3 linked regions of the Homo sapiens genome follow. The protein of the gene in region 1 purifies or fractionates together with the protein of each later gene. This does not show direct contact. Each region holds a gene or a part of one and is shown on either strand. Other genes may lie near its edges.

Region 1 (7,593 bases):
TCCAACACTGGGAGGCCAAGGCAGGAGGATCACTTGAGCCCAAGAGTTTGAGACCACCCTGAGCAATATAGTGGAACCTTGTCTCTATGAAAAAAGTAAAAAAATAAATCGGGCATGGTGGCTCACACCTGTAGTCCCAGCTACTTGGGAGGCTGAGGTGGGAGGATCACTTGAGCCCTGGAGGTCAAGTTTGCAGTGAGCCGAGATTGTGCCACTGCACTCCAGCCTGGGCAACAGAGAGAGACCCTGTCTCAAAAATAATAATAATAATAATAGAAAAAAAAGAAAATAGCCTGGCTAATAAGAGCCAGAACCAGAATTTAGAGCCAGAATGACTGATATCGAAACCAGTAAAGTTGCTAATATTCCCAAATATTCCTAATGTCCTAATGTACCACAGAGCTGTCACTTAGGAATACACACAAGTCTCCAACTTAGGATGGTTTGACTCACAATTTTTCAACTTTATGATGGTGCAAAACCAACACTCATTCAGTAGAAACTGTACTTCCAGTACTCGTACAACCATTCTGGTTTTTTTTTCATTTTTAAATACAGTCATGTGTCCCATAATGATGTTTCAATGAAAGACCACATAAATGATGGTGAGCCCATGAGAGTATAATAAAACTGAAAAACTCCTATTGCCTAATGATGTAGCTGTCTTTATGTTGTAGTGCAATGTATCCTGGTGTACACAAACCTGCACTACCAGTTGTATAAAAGTATAGCACATACAATTATGTACAGTATAACATACTAAATAATGATAATAAATTACTTTGTTACTGGTTTATATATTTACTATACTATACATTTATTGTTATTTTAGATTGTACTCCTTCTACTTATTTTAAAAAAATGAAAGTTAACTGTAAAACAACCTCAGGCAGGTCTTTCAGAAGGTATTCCAGAAGAAGGCATTGTTATCCTAGGAGATGGCAGTTCCATGTGTGTTCTTGACCCTGAAGATCTTCCAGAGGGACAAGATGTGGAGGTGAAAGATGGTGATATTGATGATCCTGACCCTGCATAGGCCTGACCCAAACACACACGTGTGTGTTTGCATATTAGTTTTCAATAAAATAGTTTAAAAAGTAAAAAACAAAATAAAACATTTTAGAAATAGAAAAAAGCTTATAGAATAAAGATAGAAATAAAGAAAATAGGTCGGATGCAGTGGCTCATGCCTATAATCCCCACACTTTGGGAGGCCAGGAGTTTGACAGCAGCCTGGCCAACATGGCGAAACCCTGTCTCTACTAAAAATACAAAAATTAGCCAGGTGTTATGGTGTACACCTGTAATGCCAGCTACTCAGGAGGCTGAGGCACGAGAATTGCTTGAACCTGGGAGGCAGAGGTTGCAGTCAGCTGAGATAGCACCACTGCACTCTAGCCTGGGCAACAAAGCGAGACTGTCTCAAAAAAAAAAAAAGAAAAGAAAAGAAAGGAGGGAGGGAGGGAGGAAGGAAGGAAAAGAAAGAAAGAAAAAATATTTTTGTATGGCTGTACAATGTGCTTGTGTTTTAAGCTAAGTGTTATTACAAAGTCAAAAAGTTGAAAAAAAAAGGTTTGTACAGTAAAAAAGTTACAATAAGCTAATTTATTACTGAAGAAAGAAAAACGTGTTTATAAGTTTAGTATGGTCTAACTGTACAGTGTTTATAAAATCTATAGTAGCGTAATGTTCTAGGTGTTCACATTTACTCACCACTCACTGACTTATCCAGAGCAACTTTCAGTCCTGCAAGCTCCATTCATGGTAAGTGCCTTATACAGGTGTATCATTTTTACTCATTTACTGTACCTTTTCAATGTTTAGATACACCAATACTTACCATTGTGTTACAATTGCCTGTAATATTCAGTACAGTAACATGCTGAATAGGTTTGTAGCCTAGGAGCAATAGGCTATGCCAAATATCCTCAGTATGTAGTAGGCTATACTAGCTAGGTTTGTGTAAGTATAATCTATGATGTTCACACAACAAAATTGCCTGACACATTTCTCAAAACATATTCCCATTGTCAAACAACACATGACTGTACTGCACACCTTCCTGGAAGTAGAAAAATTTTTGACTAAAGTTTCATTTGGATTCCAGAAGAAATATGCTATAGTTTTGGATATACATTTTTTTTCCTGTCTGTTCACCCAAAGTGAGCCTCACTCATACAAAAACTGGGTGGTTCTGCCCTGGTGGAATATAGACCAAATGCCCATATGGGTGTAATATGTGACCGATACGGCCCATTCCTAGGTAATCAACATTATTTTCTCTTCCACCATTCCTTAACGTGCATCCTAAAGCCTCCACTACTGTCAAGCTAAATTTGATCCCCACCTTCTGCAAATTATGGCTCCCATATTTTTAGTGACTCCAGCACAATATTCCTTAACTGTAACGTTTCCTTTTCTTCAGTACAAAATATACCCCTCCTACCCCTTTCTCCAGATTTCCACTTCATATTGATCTTTTCCTCCACTGAAACCAGTGGCACTTAACTATTGCCTTAAATTGTAAACTATCTCTAAGGAAGCATATTTGTCTTCCCTACTAGTTCTAAACTCCTGGGAGCACAGATTTGATCTTGTACTTCCCTGTATTTCCATATTTCCACAAGGCTTAGGGATATAACCATGTACATTTTAGAAAATAGATAAATATTGCTGGGCGCAGTGGCTCACGCCTGCAATCCCAGCACTTTGGGAGGTCGAGGCTGGTGGATCACCGGAGGTCGGGAGTTCGAGACCAGCCTGACAAATATGGAGAAACCCCATCTCTACTAAAAATACAAAATTAGCCGGGTGTGGTGGCGCAAGCCTGTAATCCACCTACTCAGGAGGCTGAGGCAGGAGAATTGCTTGAACCCAGGAGGCGGAGGTTGTGGTGAGCCGATATTGAACCATTGCACTCCAGCCTGGGCAACAAGAGCGAAACTCCATCTCAAAAAAAAAAAAAAAAAAGAAAATAGATAAATATTTGTAGTTCTATGATTACTAAATATATCTACACTGACCTATATATACCTGTATAAAGATATATACCTGTACTATACTATATACCTATATTGTCCAGTATCATGTTGCCCACTGTCAAGAAACAAAATTTCATCAAATTTAGTTTAAAGTTCTTGGCCAGGCATGGTGGCTCACGCCTGTAATCCCAGCACTTTGGGAGGCCGAGGTGGGCAGATCACCTGAGGTCAGGAGTTTGAGACCAACCTGGCCAACACGGTGAAACCCTGTCTTTACTAAAAATACAAAAATTACCCGGGCATGGTGACACACTCCTGTAATCCCAGCTACTCGGGAGACTGAGACAGAAGAATTGCTTGAACCCGGGAGGCAGACGTCATAGTGAGCCAAGATTGTGCCACTGCACTCCAGGCTGGGCAACAGAGTTAGACTGTCCTCTGTCTCAAAAAAAAAAAAAAATCGAATTGGCTTTTATTAGTGATTCATGAATCAGGCAGCATCTCATCTATAAAACAGAAAAGTGTTCTAATGAGCTGAGCAGAAGGGGTTGGGCTTATAGGCAGAAAAGGGCTGAAGAAAGCAGAAATAAGGAACAAAAAGCAGATTGGTCATTTTGAAGTTACTTTCCTCAAAGAGTTACATCAGAGGGGACTTCTTTATCATGCCAGCTCAGGTATATGGGCCCCTTCTCCTATTTGTTGGAAAACTGACCCCTTTTAAAGCTGAGTTTAATTACGCAGCACCTAGGACAAGTTGCCTCCATTCTGGTTTTGTCTGCTCTCTTGAGGCCTAGTGCCAGAGTTCTGTCCAAAACAACGACCTCCCATAAACTTTATTTAACACCATTGATCTTTTTTCCTACGTCTAAGTCACCCCAACTGTTATAAATTCCTATTACAAAGGGATCCCTGCTATGCTAATTGCAACCTTTGGGGTCTAACCGTGCTGTACACACACACACACACACACACACACACACACACACATGCTCAACAAATTTATGCTATTTGATAAGAGGCAATTTGACGTCAAGAGAAGAACTGTTTGGCCTAGGCTCTATGCCAAGTCTTGGTTGTGCCACTAACCGTGAAACATACCCTCTCTGACCTTCAGTTTTCTGGCTGCAGACCTATTTTCCCAGGGGTGCCAGGGAGGGAGGATAGGCAACTGGTCCATTCGTTTATCCTCCCCACCTTCCCGGCGCAGCCTTCTCAGGGAAACTCCGCCTCAAGGCTGGGGACTGGAGGAAGGGTGGTGGGGCCACGGTGGCCATCTTTGTGCGGGGCGACCCGCCGCCCACGTGCTGCGGCTCCCGGGCCATCTTTGTGCGGGGCCGCGCTTCCGCCAGCGCCGCAGCGGGGAATCTGCAGTAGGTCTGCCGGCGATGGAGTGGTGGGCTAGCTCGCCGCTTCGGCTCTGGCTGCTGTTGTTCCTCCTGCCCTCAGCGCAGGGCCGCCAGAAGGAGTCAGGTGGGCTCCGGGCAGTGCCGAGCCTGCCCCTTGGGCTCGGGGTCTGGCCGGAGTCCCGAGGCGCTCCCCCGCGCGGCCGGCTCCCGGGAAGATGCCGTGGCCGCTGTAGCTCGGAGCTGGGCAGAAGGCACCGGGGCGCCTTGCGGCGGAGAGTGAGGTGCCGGGGTCTCTGCTCCTGCTCTGGACCCTGGAGAGTAACCCATTCCCCGGAATTCAGAATGACAGGGAGGAGAGGGAATTCCCCGTTCACCCGCAGGAGGCGTGGCCCGTGCTTGGCTACTCTGGACCTGCCTGAAACACTGAGGGGTCGGGGATGGGGGCAAATGTCGTGCGCGCGAGCGTGTGTGTATATGCGTTGCCAGAAGAGAAGAGGGGTTTAATGTCTGTAGCTTTTAACTGATCCTCTTTGTGGAGTTCAATTTGATTAGTAGAAAGTGAGAGTCCGCGTCACTATCCATAGCATTCTGAGGGTTGAGCATTAAGCTTGGGAATTTTCCAGTTTCTTGGACACCTGACAGCCGGATAGAGGAACAGACTTGACGTGAGCGTGGGAGTTGCACACACAAAAATTCCTCCCTAGCGTTTCGTTTCCATCAGTGGGATGGGAAGGGGATTTCTGAAAGTTTTGGTCTTCTGTTTCTTCTGTTGGTGTGGTGTCAGCAAATAACATTCAGGAAAATTTTTTTAACTCTCATTTACTTCACTTTTTAAAGGTTCAAAATGGAAAGTATTTATTGACCAAATTAACAGGTCTTTGGAGAATTACGAACCATGTTCAAGTCAAAACTGCAGCTGCTACCATGGGTGAGTTCTTTTCTTTGATGTGTCTTTGAGAGTTTAGTTGCTGTCACAGGAAGTATTCTAACATCCTTGAGAGATTTTGGTTGCAGTGGTCAGAAAGGCAAGGATGTTTTTCTATTTCTGGGGAATAAAAATGCTCTCGCATGGGAAAGGCTCAGGTGGTGTCAACCTAACCACTGACTCACTGCGGGATTCAGTGCATGTGCATCTGTTTTTCCCACTGGGCTGCAAGCTTCCTGAGGTCAGGGTCTGTGTCTTATTTGCTGTTGTCTCCCTGGTGCTAGCTGTCAGTGCGTGCTCGATAAATATTGTTGAGGAAATAAACCCATCTATCGCTGAATCTAGTCCTAAATTTCCTGATGGTTATCTTTAGAAAATGCACATCAGGCTGGGCATGGTGGTTCATGCCTGTAATCCCAGCACTTTGAGAGGCCAAGGCAGGTGGATCACCTGAGGTCAGAATTTCGAGACCAGCCTGGCCAACATGGTGAAACCCTGTCTCTACTAAAAATACAAAAATTAGCTGGGCATGATGGCACGTGCCTGTAATCCCAGCTACTCGGGAGGCTGAGGCAGGAGAATCGCTTGAACCCGGGAAGCAGAGGTTGCATTGAATCCAGATCATGCCACTGCACCCCAGCCTGGGTGACAGAGTGAGACTCCGTCTCAAAAAAGAGAGAGAATGCACATCAGGGCCGGGATGAGGTATGGTAGAAAGATAACTCTGAAAACAGACTTGGGTGTTGGTGCCGGTACTCCCACTGGTTACCCCTGTGCCGAGCCACTTCAACTCCTCTGGGTCTCAGATTCTTCATCAGCTAAATAACAGGGTCTTTTAAGCTCCTTTTTATGTTATTTTTGACTCCTCAAAAAATTCCTTGGATGCTTATGATACTTATTGAAAACTTACTATGCACTCACTTTAAAAGGAATACAAAATAGTGTAATTTTGGTTACTGCTGTCACGCTACCAGAGTAAGGGCTTGTGGGGGAGAGTGTGGACCAGACAGACCAGAACAAGAGAGTCAGTGCTAGACTGTAAGGCGTAAACTTCACCTCCTGTGGGATTGGGAGGAGATGCCAGGAGGACTGAAGTGACTAGAAGGACACAGGTGTGGCATGAGTAGCGAAAGAGAAATACAGAACTGCCAAGGGAGGGGCAATCCAGATGGAAGGAGGAAGAAGAGACATTGACCCGCTTTTTACTTTTTATTGCTTTATTGCATTTGATGTTTCAGATTACCTACAGGGCTTCTAGGGAAGAGCTGCTCATTCTCACTCTCGATTCTTTCCTTCCACTTACTGTGTTCTCTAATACGAAACCTAAATGCACTTAGGAAGTAGGTGGAATGGCACCACTCTCTTGGCCTGCTTTCCTTGATGACTCCCATTCTTTCCCAGTGTCATAGAAGAGGATCTAACTCCTTTCCGAGGAGGCATCTCCAGGAAGATGATGGCAGAGGTAGTCAGACGGAAGCTAGGGACCCACTATCAGATCACTAAGAACAGACTGTACCGGGAAAATGACTGCATGTTCCCCTCAAGGTAAGAGTTAACGAGGTAGATATATCTTCTGACTTTATTACATATGGGCTTGATACCCTTTTATAGAGGAGCCAATTCATGGGACTAACAAGCAGATCCCTCCTCACATTTCAGGCGGACTATGAAATAGTGACGAGCTCTTCTCCTTGCCTGGGAATTTTTCTTGCGAGCTCCTCTCAAAGCCTGTCTCCTCTGTGAGGCTTGGTTCATCACTGGTTGTACTGGTGGTGGCTCTGCCTCTTCTGCTCCTTCCCTGGGATATAGTAGCGGCAGGACACAGGCTGATGAGGCCTAGCAGGCCTAGCAGGAGGGAGCTAGGCTGAAGGAGGAAGAGGAATTGGTTGAATGTCTGTCATCGGCCAGTGTAGTTCTAGATACTGAATATTCAAGGGGAGGTGGTAGAGTCAAGAGGAGTAACTAGATGGGGTGGTGGTGGCTCACACCTGTGATCCCAGCACTTTGTGGTGGATTACTTGAGCCCAGGAGTTGGATTATGGCAAATAATCCGGCAGTGGCAAATAATACAACAGAGTGAGACCCTGTCTATTAAAAAATAAATAAATAAAGAGGAGTAACTAGTGCTGCAAATTACACTAGCCAGGACTTCAGAACTTCAGGTGTGAGACCTGAGGTACCATGTCAGTGGGCTGAAGGCAGGGTGGTAAGCAGGGAGGGTCATGGGCTGAGGGTGGAGGTTGGGTTTAGGCAGCATTGCACACACCAAAAGATAAACTTTATTTTTGGAGTTTGTTTTTTTTTTTTAACTCAGATCTTTATAAAATTAGAAGGTACAAAA
Region 2 (7,272 bases), on another chromosome or scaffold:
AAAGGCAAAATAAGTTTATAATTAATGTTTTGAATAGGAAAAAAATGGTCATAAAAATAAAGTATAATATTTACTTGTTCCTTTAAAATCAAAACACCTGTTTTTAAAAATATCTGTTTAACTTGTTACCCATAGTTGCAGGTGTTTAGAGTAGTCTTACAAAAGCTTTCTCTATAACTTTACTGTTGTGCCCATGGGTTGTTACAGCTGGGAGTAATCTTGGTTATCTAGACCAAGGACTTTCACATTTTTTTGAGATGAAACCTCCTTTACTTGTCTAGTGAACTGTTACACAAAATCCCAGTATTTAATACAAATGAAAGAAGACCTGCTCTTTCTAGCGCGTCTTGGAATCACACCTTAGTCATGCATTCCCCTAAGCCTAAAGATGGCCCATGAATAATTTGTTCTAACTATCCTGCATGCTCTGTTGTCCAGGCTGAAGAGCAGTGGCACAATCTTGGCTCACTGCAGCCTCTGCCTCCCAGGCTCAAGCGATCCTCCTACCTCAATCCCCAAGTAGCTGTGACCACAGGCGTGCACCACCACACCCAGTTAATTTTTTTGTTTGTTTTGTAGAGGCGGAGCTTCATTATATTGCCTAGGCTGGTCTTGAACTCCTGGGTTCAAGCAATCTGCCCACCTTGGCCTCCCAAAGTGCTGGGATTGCAGGCGTGAGCCACCATGCCCAGCCCCTAGCTTCAGTCTTACCCAGCAAAATATAAAGTGTCAAAGAATAGTTTAATAAAGCAGGCTGAAACCTGATTCCATGTCTTCTGATTCATTTAGGGCTAGCTACCTTTCTACAGCATAGAAGTCATAGAATATATTTTATATACATTCTAGGTCCATATCACATTCGTTTTTATAACCAGCCTTTTGTTTTGGAAATCCCCCCACCTTGTCTCCTTATCATTGTAACACTTGAATAATGGAAAATCAGGAAATAACAATAAAAGGGGCGTTAAATTAAACTGATGCTCTTTTCCTTGATTTCTTGCTTAGTTAAGCAAGCAGCATTTCACTATTCCTCAAAAATAGATTTGTGTACATTTTTTCAGTATCTTGAATGCTTTGAGTTCCTTATCTCTTTTTTATGACAATTTTATTGAGATATAGTTTACATATCATAAAATTTATTAATTTAAAGTGTACGGTTAACCAGGTCATGTAGCTATCACCACCATCAAATTTAGAGCATTTCACCCCAAAAAGAAATCCCATACCCATTAACAATCACTCCTCACATCCTACCAACCCTCTTTCCCCCCAAACTTAGGCATCTACTGGTCTACTTCCTATAGATTTGCCTCTTCTGGGAATTTAATAGAAAGCAAATTGTACAATATGTGGCCTTTTATGACTGGCTTCTTTCACTCACATAATGTTTTCAAAGTTCATCCATGTTGTGACATGTTAGGTACTTCATTCCTTTTTATAGCCAAAAAATGTTCTATTGTGTGGTTATACCACATTTTGTTTCTCCATTTGTCAGTTTATATGCATTTGAGTTGTTTCTACTTTTTGGCTATTATAAATACTGCTGCTGTGAACATTTGTGTTTAACTTTTTGGGTGGACATAGATTTTCAATTCTCTTGGACATATGCCCAGGACTCTGGCTGGGTCATATGGTAATCCTGTGTTTGACCTTTTGAGAAATTGCCACACCGTTTTCCAAAGTGGCTGCATCATTTTACATTCCCACCAGCAGTGTTTAGGAGTTCCAGTTTCCCCACATCCTCATTAATACATGTTATTATCTTTTTGTTTCTAGTATCACCCATGATAGTGGATGTGGTATTGATTGTGACTCTGATTATAATTTTTCTTATGATTAATGTTGTTGAGCATCTCTTGATGTGTTTATTGGCCATTTGTATATCTTTAGTGAAATGTCTGTTCAGATCCTTTGCCCATTTTAATTGGGTTATGGAGTTTCTTGGGCTTCTTGAATATGTACATTAATGTTTTTCATCAAATTTGGGAAGTTTCAGCCATTATAGTCATCTCTCAGTACCTGCATGGGATTGGATCCAGGATACCATGTGGAACCAAAATCCATGGTCGATCAAGTCCCTTATGTAAATATACATATTTTCATATTACCTGTGCATATCTGCCCATATACTTTAAACCATCTCTAGATTGCTTATAATACCTAATACAGGCCAGGCACGGTGGCTCACGCCTGTAATCCCAGCACTTTGGGAGGCCGAGGCGGGCAGATCACGAGGTCAGGAGATCAAGATCATCCTGGCTAACAAGGTAAAACCCTGTCTCTACTAAAAATACAAAAATTAGCCAGGCGTGGTGGCAGGCGCCTGTAGTCCCAGCTACTTGGGAGGCTGAGGCAGGAGAATGGCATGAACCTGGGAGGCGGAGTTTGCAGTGAGCCGAGATTGCACCACTGCACTCCAGCCTGGGCAACAGAGTGAGACTCCATCAAAAAAAAAAAAAAAAAACCCTAATACAATGTAAATACTATGTAAATAGTTGTTATATTGTATTTAAATTTTTATATTTATTGTTATTTTTTATCGTTTTTTTCCCTAATATTTTTGAACCATGTTGGTTGATTCTATGGGATGTGGAACTCATGCATATGGAGGGCTGACTGTATTTCTTTGAATACTTTTTCTGCTCCATTCTCATAGTTTTCTCCTTTGACACTCACTGTATGTATGTTGGTACATTTAATGGTATCCCACATTTTTCTTAGGCTCTGTTTATTTCTCTTCATTCTTTTCTCCCTCTGTTCTTCAGATTGCATAATTTCTATTGATCTATCCAAGTTCTCTGATTGTTTTTTCTGTTAGATCTACTGTTGAGCTACTCTAATGAATTTTTATTTCAGTTACTATAGTTTTTAACTTCAGAATTTCTATGTGGTTCTTTTGATATATATATAATTTCTTTATTAATACTCTATGTGATGAAACATTGTCATCTTCTGTTACTTCCTTAAGTGTGACTTCTTTTAATTCTTTGAACATACTTACAATGGCTGCTTTGGAATTTTTGTGTATTAAAGCTAATGTCTGGGCCCTAACACAGGCAGTTTTTGTTGCTTGCCGGTTTTTTTTTTTTTTTTAAGCGTATGTCACATCTTCTTGTTTCTTTGCATTCCTCATTATTTCTTTTTCGAAAACTAGACATTTTAGGTAATACACTGTGGCAACTCTGGATACTGATTTCCCTCTACCACCACGGCTTGGTTTTTTTTTTTCCTTGTTTATTTATTTATTGACATGGCTGGACTATTTTAACAAATTATTTCTTCCTCCTTCCCCGACCTTTTGGCAATATGAAGCCTCTGCTGTTGCTCCTCAGGGCCTGTGCAGTTATCCTAGGATGGCATTGGATTTAGCAGGGCTCTCTTTATCTCTTTCCATGCCTCCATTGGTATCACTCCTATTAGACTCCACTGACTGTTCACTAATTGCTGTCTTGTTTTTGACAATGCTCTGGGGCATAAATTGCTCCATAATCTGTCCCTACTAAATTGGGCCCTTTTGCAGGGATAGTTTTTGCAGCAAGTCTTTGAGATTTGTTCAGACCCCAGGAGGTATATTCTTACTATCTCTCTCTGTGGTTCTCTCTAGTAAATTAGCTGGCCTACAGTTTAGCTGTTGCCCTCCTGGAGTTACCAGCCTCCTCTTAATTGCTTACTACCAAAATCTCCATTATTTTCAAGAGGCTGGAACTTCTCTAAACTCTGAACTTCTCTACATTCTATTTTAAATAAAGTCAGTTCCTTAGGGAAGAACTTTGGAGCACTTTGTTCTTATGGACTTCCTCTCCCCCGGGGGAAAAAATCCATGAGGTTTTGCCCTGAGGATGGGGACAGTGACACACTTATTAAGCAGAGTGACCACCTCTGCCCTATGAGCAGGACACTGGGTAGGGGCAGGAGGACCCCCAGTATTCTCAGCTGGCCACACCTGGAAGTGGAGCCTCCACCCTGTTGCTGTGGGCTGGGTGAAAAAGAGCTGCACCTGTTTAGAACTTAGACTCTTTATTTGGAGCTTCTGTTCCCTTGTTTCCTTTCTTCCTGGTATTCCCATTATACATATGTTACATCTTTTGTAGTTGTCCCACCGTTCTTAGATATTTTGTTCATTTTATTTTCAGTCTTTTTTTTTCTTTGATTTTCTGTTTTGGAAATTTTTATTGTCATATCCTCAAGCTCAGAGATTGTTTCTTAAGCTAAGTCCGGTCTACTAATGAACCCATCTAAGGCATTCATTTATTTCGCAGTGTTTTTGATCTCTAGCATTTTTTTAAATTCCTTAGATCCATCTCACTGCTTATGTTCCGCATCTTGTGTGTTATCTGCTCTTTCCATTAGAGCCCTTAGAGTATTATACATAGTTGTTTTAAATTCCCAGCCTGATAATTCCAACATCCCTGCTGTATCTGAATCTGGATCTGGTACATGCTCTGTCTGTTCATACTGTGTTTTTCTTAACTTTTAGTATACCTTGTCATGTTTTCTGTTGAAAGTTGGACTTGATATACTGCGTAAAAGGAACTGCAATAAATAGGCCTTTGATGATGTGGTGGTGAAGTGTGGAGGGAGCGGAAGTGTTCTGTAGTCCCATAAGTAAGTCTCAATCTCTTAGTGATCCTGTATCCCAGACTCTGAATTTCACACATGCTTCTCAGTCTCCCCTCCTCTCCTGGACAGGATGACTAGAAGGGGCTCTAGTTGGGTAGATTTCTTCCTCCAAGTCAGTTAGGCACTGATAAAACCCCAGCAGGTTAGGCTCTGGTTAAATAACTTCTCCTAAGGACAGGCTTTGTTAATAATGACAACATGCTGTGGCATACTTTAAAATGATTACCTTTTCCCCTTCCCCACTGCTGGACGCATTAAGAGATTTTTCTCTGATCTTCACCACTGAGGACCTAATAGAGCTCCTAGAGGTAAAACTCACATGAGTATGGGGGTCCCAATATGACCAGGTCCCCCTGGAGTTTTTAACACTCAGACTTACCTCCCCTGAGCCTCCAGCAATTTGTCGATTACAGTTAGGGTTTTCCTACCTGGGTACTGGTCCCCACAGAGATTTCTGCTCCAGTAAGTTGGAATTCTTTGTATCTGCCTATCTGTCTCACCAGTTTTGAGGGCAGTGGTTTACCCTGTGACCTCACTTCTCTGTGAGAGACCTAAGAGGAGTTGTTGCTTTTTCAGTGTTCAGCTTTTGACTTGTTAGGATGGAGTGATGACTTCTAGCTCCAGGCATGCCAGACCAGAAACTGAGAATGCCCCATTTGTTTTAAGTATATGTACCATCTCTAATATTCTAAGAGCTTATATCTACAAGGAAGAAAAGCTGATATGTATCAGACATAGCATTTAGTAAAGCTCTGATTGTTTAATACTTTTCAGAGATCCCCAGATTATTGTCCATCCTGTTAATGTGAAATTAAGTGGGATAGAATTATTTGACAGGAGCCGGGCATGGTGGCTCGAACTTGTGGTCCCACTTACTAAGGAGGCTAAGGCAGAAGGATCACTTGAGCCCAGGAGATGGAGGCTGCAGTGAGCTATGATTGCACCTCTGCACTCCAGCCTGGGCAACAGAGTGAGAACACATCTCTGAAAAATAAAAATTATTTGACAGGCCAGGCACGGTGGCTCACGCCTGTAATCCCAGCACTTTGGGAGGCCGAAGTGAGTGGATCATCTGAGGTCAGGAGTTCAAGCTTACGAAGATGACGGGATTAAGAGATTAAAGTAAAGACAGGCAATCACAAGGGTATTGATTGGGGAAGTGATAAATGTCCATGAAATCTTCACAATTTATGTTCAGAGATTGCAGTAAAGACAGGAGTAAGAAATTATAAAAGTATTAATTTGGGGAACTAATAAATGTCCATGAAATCTTCACAATTTATGTTCTTCTGCCATGGCTTCAGCCAGTCCCTCCATTCGGGGTCCCTGACTTCCTGCAGCAGCCCACTCCAGTTAGCCTTCTGCCCCATCACTCTATCAGAATTGTTCTGGGGAAGTTTATAAGTAACATTTATGCTGCCAGGTCCAGTCAGTTCTTCTTAAATTCTTCACTGAATAGCACACACTTGACAACTTCTTCCTCAAGACACTTTCTTCACGTGGCTACTACAATGGCACCTTTTCCAGAATTTTCTCCCTCACCTGGGGCCACTTCTCAATCTCATTTCCTGACTTAACTTTCTTTACCTCTATTTAACCTCTAGAAATTGGCATTTCTTAGTGTTTAGACCTAGGCCCTGTTTTCCTTCCAAATTCCTTCAGTAATTTCATTCATTCCTGTAGCTTTAAATAATCTATGGACCCATTCTCAAATTTATATCTCCAGCTTGGCCCTTTCTTCTTTTTCCACTCTGGGGAGTTTTTCTATAGCCCAGAAAAGCGTGTGTCTCAAAGGACAGAAAATGTGGCTGGTCGCAGTGGCTAATGCCTGCAATCCAGCACTTTGGGAAGCCAAGTGGGCGGAACACTTGAACCCAAAGTTCGAGACCAGCCTGGGCAACATGGTGATACCCCATCTCCACCAAAAAAAAAAAAAAAGCTGAGTATGGTGACATGCGCCTGTGGTCCCAGCTACTCGGGGCTGAGATGGGAGGATCGCCTGAGCCACGGAGGTCGATGCTGCAGTGAGCCATGATCACACCACTGCACTCCAGCCTGGGTGACAGAGTGAGACCCTGTCTCAAAAAAAAAAACAAAAAAAAAAAGAAAACATAAAAAGTTAATGGTGGTGAGATTATAGGTGACTTGTATTTTCTTCTCCTTTATTTGACTTTTTGTAGATTTTCTACAGGACTTTGAAATTTACAAAGTGTTCTTAAATATTTAACCCCATTTTGATACTGTCAACAACCAACCTTGAGCTCCTTGAGTCCAAGTGTCAGCTCAAAACTGGACTTCCGGTGACTGGGAGTCACTCCTCCATGCCAGGTGTCTCGTGCTACCTTTTTGCTGAACCATCCCATCCCTTTTGAAGCAGAACATTTAAAATTTTATATATATCCCTGTGCTCTGGCTAATAATAGGCAGTTATTTATAGTGTCAATTTTGATCTTACAGGTGGATTTGACATGGAAGTGAAAGGTTGGGGTGGAGAAGATGTTCATCTTTATCGAAAATACTTACATGGTGACCTCATTGTGATTCGGACTCCGGTTCCTGGTCTTTTCCACCTCTGGCATGAAAAGCGCTGTGCTGATGAGCTGACCCCCGAGCAGTACCGCATGTGCATCCAGTCTAAAGCCATGAATGAGG
Region 3 (7,272 bases), on another chromosome or scaffold:
TACTCCTCAAAAAAGGAGATCAACGCTTTGGCTGAGCACGGAGACCTAGAGCTGGATGAGCGAGGGGACCGAGAGGAAGAGGTGGAACGGCCAGTCAGCAGCCCTGGCGACCCAGAGCAGAAAAAGCTGGACCCCCTTGAGGGCCTGGATGAGCCCACCAGAATATGTTTCTTGGTGTGTTCTTGAGTCATCTTGTGGCTTAGGAGGGGCTTCTGAGGGATGGCTTCTCTTTGGCCCGGGCCATGTTTTAGCCTAAACATGAAAATGCTTCTGTCTGCTGTCCTGAGAATTCACTTCCTAAAGACTCAGTCTTATGTTGTGCAGAATTGATCCAGAAGAACAGAAAAGCCCCACAACAATAGTTCTTAATATTTTGGGTTATAAACTCAAAAGCTTTAGGTCCTCTCTCCCCATAAAATACACATTCAAACATGTATGTAAAATTTTGCACGAATTTCAAGGGCTTACTAAAGCCCTAAGGCTCGTCCATGAACTCTATACGATAGTTCCTTCCTCATAGTTTCTCAGAAATACACTCTTACCTTTACTAGGTAATCTATTCTTCCTCAGAACAATATGAAAAGGATGAGGGCTTGGACTTCAGAAGTTGTGACTAAATGAAGAGTAAACAGAATGTAGCGTAGAATGTCAGAAAAAGCAAATCCCAGCCAGGCACAGTGGCTCACACTAGTAATCCCAGCACTTTGGGAGGCTGAGGCAGGAGGATCACTTGAGGCCAGGAGTTCAAGACCACCCTGGGTAACTTAGCAAGACCCTGCCTCTACAAAAAATAAGACTAGCCAGGTGTGGCATGCGCCTGTAGTCCTGGCTACCCAGGAGGCTGAGGCAGGAGGATCACTTGAGGCCAGGAGTTCAAGTTTACAGATTTTGCAGGAGAGTTTGCATCCCCTGGCACAGAGCATACATGCAATTCTGTATCCATGAATAAGTAAAAGCTATGAATCCAGTTGGCAAAATACAGAAAATGATGATGTCATTGATACTAACAGAAAAACTACTTTGATCAACATTGCTGACAAGTTTAAGTGCAGGTTAAAACTCCTCTTGCCTTTCTACGCTTTTGGGTACTCAGTGGTATGAGCTATGATCACACCACTGCACTCCAGCCTGGGCAACCAAGTGAGACCCTGTGTCAAAAAAAATCAAAAGAAAATACAGTGCCTATGTATGCGCTAGTTGTCAAACTTGAGTGTAAAACAGTTATAGAGACGCTAGCCGTGAATACGATGTGGTAAGTATCTACTGTCAGCATTGTATTTTGTTGACAGGATATTTCTTTGGGGTTTTAGTGTTTTATAATTTCCTTTGAAGTTACAGTCGTAGTGTAGGTGTTATAGTCCATGTTTTGGTGCTTACAATTTTATATGCTTTTTAAACTACCCATATAATGTTCCTCAATTATAACCTGTGGCAGCTTTTGCTATATTGTCTTCTCAGTTTTGAGTTCAGTTGATCAATACCGTATTGAAGCACTGTTAATGGTTCTTGTCTGCGTCCTCCCCTGGCCTCCAGATGGCTCATGATGCCCTCAATGCCCCTCTGCACATTCTCCGGGCCATATACGAACTGCAGATGAAAAAGACCGATTATTTCTTCCTGGAGGTTCAGAAGAGGTAAGGGACATTTCCGTGCAGCTGAAGTGTGGCCAGGGAGAGAATATGTGAGGGCGGGAGGGTGTGCGCCTCCTGGCAGCAGCTTCTGGATCGATCGACGCTCCGACAGGCCGGGAAGCAGTTGCTAGTCCTTTGTAAGGCGAGGTGGGAGGTGGCCTGTGCTACGTTACCTGGATCATCTTCAAAGTGCACTGTGGTTCCTCTTTAAAACTTATGTTTGTAGTCGGCCTCTGAGAGGAAACTCATTTTACAGACACAGAAATTGGGCAGGCACCAAGATGTCTCTCATGTGTAATCCCAGGGAGCAGACAGCACAGAGCAGGAACTTCTGCTCAAGATATTTTTAAAATTAAGAACATTCCCTTTCTCTTGGCCAGGAAGTTCAGAGCTAGTTTTTGGGCCCAACTTTTTAATTTGCGTAGAACTTTACATATCTGCAATCCAGTCTCCTCCATCCCCCGTATCCTAATTTTGACTTCTTACTCATTGTAAATTCTCATTTAATTTTTCTTTTATTTTGTGTTTCGTGTTTCTCTTTTATTAGTTTCTTATATATTGCCTAAAAGCCTTTATGAGGTGAAGCAGGGTTGCATTAGTTAGGGTACAGTCTAAGCTGCGGTAACTAAGAAACCAGAAATATAATGGATCAGGGCAGATAGAATTTGTTTTTCTCTCACATAACAGTCCAGAGGTAGGCAGAGTCTGGGGTGGGTGACAGCTCTGCTCCACAGAGGGACCCAGCAATCCCAGCGTTCTCATTTGTGGAGTGAAAGCTCCCTCGGCCACCCCACCTCTCGGTTCTAGCCCAGAGGAAAGAGGGGAGGTGGAGAAGGGAGTGCACCATTAGTCCAGTAGACTCCAGAGGTGGCACACCACCTCGCTCACCTGCACTGCCCAGAACCCAGGGGCATCAGCACATCTAGCTGCTAACCATGTCTCTAGCTGGGTGACTGTGGCTCTTGCTAAAACTCAGGGAGCTTTAGAGAGAGAGAAGGGCCACCGAGTTTCGGCCAGAGTCGTCCACCTGTTCAGACTGCGTTCAAATAAGGCAAACACCAGGCTGTAACCATTCCAGCTGTTTCTGTACCTCACTTCTGTTTTCTGTGTGTCAGTTTCCTTTTTCTGTTCGTAAACCTCCAACCACAGCAGTGGAGTCACTCTGAACCCATTCTGATTCAGGAGCTGCCCAATTCGGGGATCACTCTTTGCTCATTTAAACTCTGTTAAATTTAAAAAAAAAAGGAGAGAAGGGGAGTCCAGGCATGGTGGTATGAGCCTGTAATCGCAGCTACTAGGGAGGCTGAGGCAGGCAGGAGGATCGCTTGAGCCCAGGAGTTCCAGGCCGGCCCGGGCAACATAGCTCCAACACGTCATCTCTAAAAAAAACAAATAAATTTTTTTTAAAAATGTTTTTTTAATGAAAATAAAACATTTAAATTAATTTTAAAAATGGAAAAGATAGAAAAGGAGAATGGATTTTGCAGGAGAGTTTGCATCTCCTGCCACAGAGCATACATGCATTCTGTATCCATGCATAAGTGAAGGCTGTGAATCCAGTTGGCAAAACACGGAATATGATAATGTCATTGATACTAACAGAAGAACAACTCTGAAGAACATTGCCAACAAGTTTAAGTGCAGGTTAAAACTGGCCTGTCTACACTGTTGGTACTCAACTTTGTGCTGCCCTTCTGCAGGTTTGATGGTGATGAGCTCACCACAGATGAAAGGATACGGTCCCTGGCTCAGCGGTGGCAGCCCAGTAAGAGTCTGAGGCTGGAAGAACAGAGCGCCAAAGCTGTGGATACAGACATGATTATCCTGCCATGCTTGGTATGTCACCCGACCTCGGACCCAAAGTATCTGCACCCCATCCCCCACCCCATACCACCACTGTAAGAAGGCTAGACCTCTGTAATGGTGGTCTTGGGTTTGCAGTCCCGGCCTGCACGCTGTGACCAAGCCACTGCTGAATCGAACCCTGTGACCCAGAAGCTGATCTCCAGCACAGAGAGCGAACTGCAGCAGAGCTATGCCAAGCAGCGCCGTAGCAAGAGCGCCGCCCTCCTGCACAAGGAGCTGAACTGCAAGAGTAAGAGGGCTGTCCGGGACTACCTCTTCCGAGTGAACGAGGCCACAGCTGTCCTGTACGCCCGCCACGTGCTTGCATCCCTGCTCGCCGAGTGGCCTAGCCACGTGCCAGTGAGCGAGGACATCCTGGAGCTCAGTGGCCCTGCCCATATGACCTACATTTTGGATATGTTCATGCAGCTGGAAGAAAAGCATGAGTGGGAGAAGGTAGTTATGCAGACTGAGCTTGTGCTCACCCACCAGGTTCTTCCTCTGCCCCACAGGCTTCCTCCAGTGAGTGCTTCCTGGAGCGAGGCTACCTGTGTGGCTGTGCAGCTCCCTGACAGGTGTGAATGCAGCAAAGGTAGGGTCACTGTATCCTCTCCCAAGGATTGGGCTAGTGAGGAACTCAGGGGCCCTGAGCGCGATTTCCAGCTGAACCAGAAAGCTTTGTCGCCATCTTCCCAGTTTCCAAGTGCAGAAATCTTGAGGCACATTCGGTAGCTCCTTTTTGATCCTGTCCCTCACCCACCTTCACACACACACACGCAGTCCATGAGGAAGTTCATTTGGCCTCTCAGCCTTGCTTTGTCCATCTGAGAACACCACCAGACCTCGAGGTCTTTTCCCGGCCTTGCAGCCCTGCAGGTGCTGGCAGGCTTGCTCTAGCATATCTATCTTTCGGAAGGGACAGAGGGAGCCACCCTGCCTCTACTAGGCCCTTGCATAGGCGTGTCCTCCCACAGTTCTTGCCACCTAGAGCTCCCAACCCTGCACCTCACTCCAGGCATCGATTACATTGTGTGGTCATTATTTATCCATAGGCCAATCCACCTGCTTGGCTGGGGACTCCTTCAAGGACCAGGACCCTTTATGATTGGTTCAGTTAGTTCTTTCAGACCACCTCTAAGTAGCATCATTCTGAAAGGACTGCAGTGTCCTGATTGACACCAAGAGCCTGGTCAAGTGAGAGGTGGCTGGTGGAGTTGGTTTTGGGTGGTGGAGTCACAGAGGCTCGTCCTAGGTCTAAGATGATGCCAGCACCTTTGGGTGGAGCTTGGGTTGAAGTAAACTGTCCCTTCTTCCTGATGCCACTTGCAGGCCCTGACCTTATCTGTCTGCTTCCCACCAGATCCTGCAGAAAGTGCTCCAGGGCTGCCGAGAGGACATGCTGGGGACCATGGCCCTGGCTGCATGCCAGTTCATGGAGGAGCCAGGAATGGAGGTGCAAGTGAGGGAGTCGAAACACCCGTATAACAACAACACCAACTTCGAGGTAAGCCTGGGGCCGGCAGGCCCCATAAGAGCGACTGAGCCGCAGAGACCTCGTCAGCCCCTCCGTGCTCAGCCCCTCCATGCTCAGCCCCTCTGTGGCTCTCTCCCGCTGGACAGCAGAGACCTGTCCAGGAAAGTGCTTCCTTGAACAAACTGCAGTCTGCCTCCCTGAGGCCAGGGATTCTGTACAAGCAAGTCTTCTCTTCTCCGGACTTTTCTTGTTTTAATAGAAGAAAATGGGCCACCTAGCCCTGGAGGAGAGCTTTACTTTCCCTGCGGCAGGCTCCTCAGAGTGAGTCCTTGGCTTCACAGTGAGACAGTGAGTCTGAATGTGGTCCAGGTTGGACCCTCACTCTTCAGCTGCCACCTCATGACCTGCCCCCACCGTGGATACTACAGCCCCTTTTTAAAATTTCCCAGAACTGAATCAGAGTCTCATCTTTTCCATCCTTAACTTTGTGCCTGGGCAGGGAGGTAGGCATTTTGATGAGGCAGGAATGGGGCAGCCTCCGTTATTCTCATTGACTTAAGGCCATGTAGTCCCTTTAGCACTTTTTTTTGAGACGGAGTCTCACTCTGTCGCCCAGGCTGCAGTGCAGTGGTGTGATCTCGGCTCACTGCAACCTCCACCTCCCGAATTCAAGTGATTCTCATGCCTCAGCCTCCCTAGTAGCAGGAATAAAGGCACCTGCCACCATGCCCAGCTAATTTTTGTATTTTTAGTAGAGACGGGGTTTCACCATATTGGCCAGGCTGGTCTCTAACTCCTGACCTCAGGTGATCCACCCGCCTTGGCCTCCCAGAGTGCTGGGATTACAGGCGTGAGCCACCTCACCTGGCCCCCATTAGCGCTTTTAAAAATGTTGGAGAGAAAACTGAAATGTTGGAGTTGCCCAGGCATCTACTTCTGAGTGGAAGGCACCTGCAGCAGCGAAGGTGGATGATGAAAACCGATTTAGAACTGGGTTATTGGCCAGCTGAGATTTTGTTTTTCAGAAGTATAACCTGTCTTTCTTCCAAGTCTCTTCTCTTGTCATGTTCCTGGGCTCCAGCCCCACTCCCTTGGTCCCATACAGGCACATGTGGTCAGCCACCAGGTTCGATCCCAAAGAGGTCTTGTCTTCTCCACTGACCCTGGACACCCGTTGCCCTTCTCTGGGGTTCCTTTTGCTGCTACTTTCTGATTTCCTCACTTTTGCCTCAGCCCAGCCTTGCTCCACACCAGCTGTCAGTGATGCTACACTGTGCAAGCCTCACCAAAGCTTTCCAGGGTTTTCCCTGTTGTCCAGAGTCTGAGTGCCTCATTTTCATGCCCAGGGCCTTCAGTGTCTGCCCCTGCCAGTCTCTCTGGAGTCAGGTCTTGTCCCTGTTCCTGCTTCCCAAGCATACGTGCCCATGTAGCACACCCTTTACTCCAAACACGCCAAGCTCCTTGCCATTCCCTGAACATGCTAGACCTTCACAGGGCTGTTACCCTGTCTGAAATGCACCCCATGCACTCAGGTCCACCTTGTCTCCCACTCCCGCCTTCTCCTAACAGGGTCCTCCTGTCCTCTTCACTCTTCACAGCAGCCTGACACTCTTTCTCTGGGGCCCCGTGTTGCCTGCCCCGCTGTGCCTCCCTCGCACCATATTTGCAGTCTGTGCATGCTCCTCGCCCTAGCTGGACTCTGCACTCCTGGAGGCCAGGGCTGTGGTTCACTCATTCTCACACACCCGGGTCCAGCCACAGGACTCGGCATGGGACAGCTGCAGTCAGTGTCTAGTGAGCAGCATCGACAGATGTGTTCTCCATTTCCCCTCCCTAGGATAAAGTTCACATTCCTGGTGCCATCTACCTCTCAATCAAATTCGACTCTCAGTGCAACACAGAGGAGGGCTGTGACGAGTTAGCCATGTCCAGCAGCAGTGACTTCCAGCAAGACCGACACAGCTTCAGCGGGTCTCAGCAGAAGTGGAAAGATTTTGAACTTCCAGGTAGTGAAACAAATACTCGATTAGATAGGTTCTTCACAGGCAGTGTTTAAACTTAATATTGAGAAGGGAACTTACTGGAGAATGTTGAAACCCAACACCACTGCTGCCATTCCCTGTTGCTTCAGTTCCTGATGGGCCTCTGATCCTTGTGTGCCTAGGAGACACTCTGTATTACCGCTTCACCTCCGACATGAGCAACACCGAGTGGGGCTACAGATTCACCGTGACGGCCGGACACCTGGGGCGGTTCCAGACAGGTGTGTGCTCTGGGCTTTGCGTTCACACCATCTGCCTGCCAGGGACACTCCATGGCTGT

What was found.
Region 2: the proteins of POGLUT1 (region 1) and CSGALNACT2 purify together in Homo sapiens (affinity purification with mass spectrometry; 4 studies listed by BioGRID and IntAct, with this or other methods). This does not show direct contact.
Region 3: the proteins of POGLUT1 (region 1) and ZZEF1 purify together in Homo sapiens (affinity purification with mass spectrometry; 3 studies listed by BioGRID and IntAct, with this or other methods). This does not show direct contact.

The regions. Positions count from the first base shown.
Region 1 is NC_000003.12:119,464,656-119,472,248, forward strand, and holds the start of POGLUT1 (protein O-glucosyltransferase 1 precursor), read left to right. Parts: upstream 1-4,307; 5' UTR 4,308-4,366; coding exon 4,367-4,451; intron 4,452-5,164; coding exon 5,165-5,255; intron 5,256-6,653; coding exon 6,654-6,797; intron 6,798-7,593. UniProt on the Homo sapiens protein: Dual specificity glycosyltransferase that catalyzes the transfer of glucose and xylose from UDP-glucose and UDP-xylose, respectively, to a serine residue found in the consensus sequence of C-X-S-X-P-C.
Region 2 is NC_000010.11:43,176,173-43,183,444, forward strand, and holds part of CSGALNACT2 (chondroitin sulfate N-acetylgalactosaminyltransferase 2), read left to right. Parts: intron 1-7,077; coding exon 7,078-7,272. UniProt on the Homo sapiens protein: Transfers 1,4-N-acetylgalactosamine (GalNAc) from UDP-GalNAc to the non-reducing end of glucuronic acid (GlcUA). Required for addition of the first GalNAc to the core tetrasaccharide linker and for elongation of chondroitin chains.
Region 3 is NC_000017.11:4,014,031-4,021,302, reverse strand, and holds part of ZZEF1 (zinc finger ZZ-type and EF-hand domain-containing protein 1), read left to right. Parts: coding exon 1-174; intron 175-1,533; coding exon 1,534-1,634; intron 1,635-3,331; coding exon 3,332-3,467; intron 3,468-3,572; coding exon 3,573-3,932; intron 3,933-4,528; exon of another isoform or gene 4,529-4,670; intron 4,671-4,836; coding exon 4,837-4,980; intron 4,981-6,787; coding exon 6,788-6,956; intron 6,957-7,114; coding exon 7,115-7,213; intron 7,214-7,272. UniProt on the Homo sapiens protein: Histone H3 reader which may act as a transcriptional coactivator for KLF6 and KLF9 transcription factors.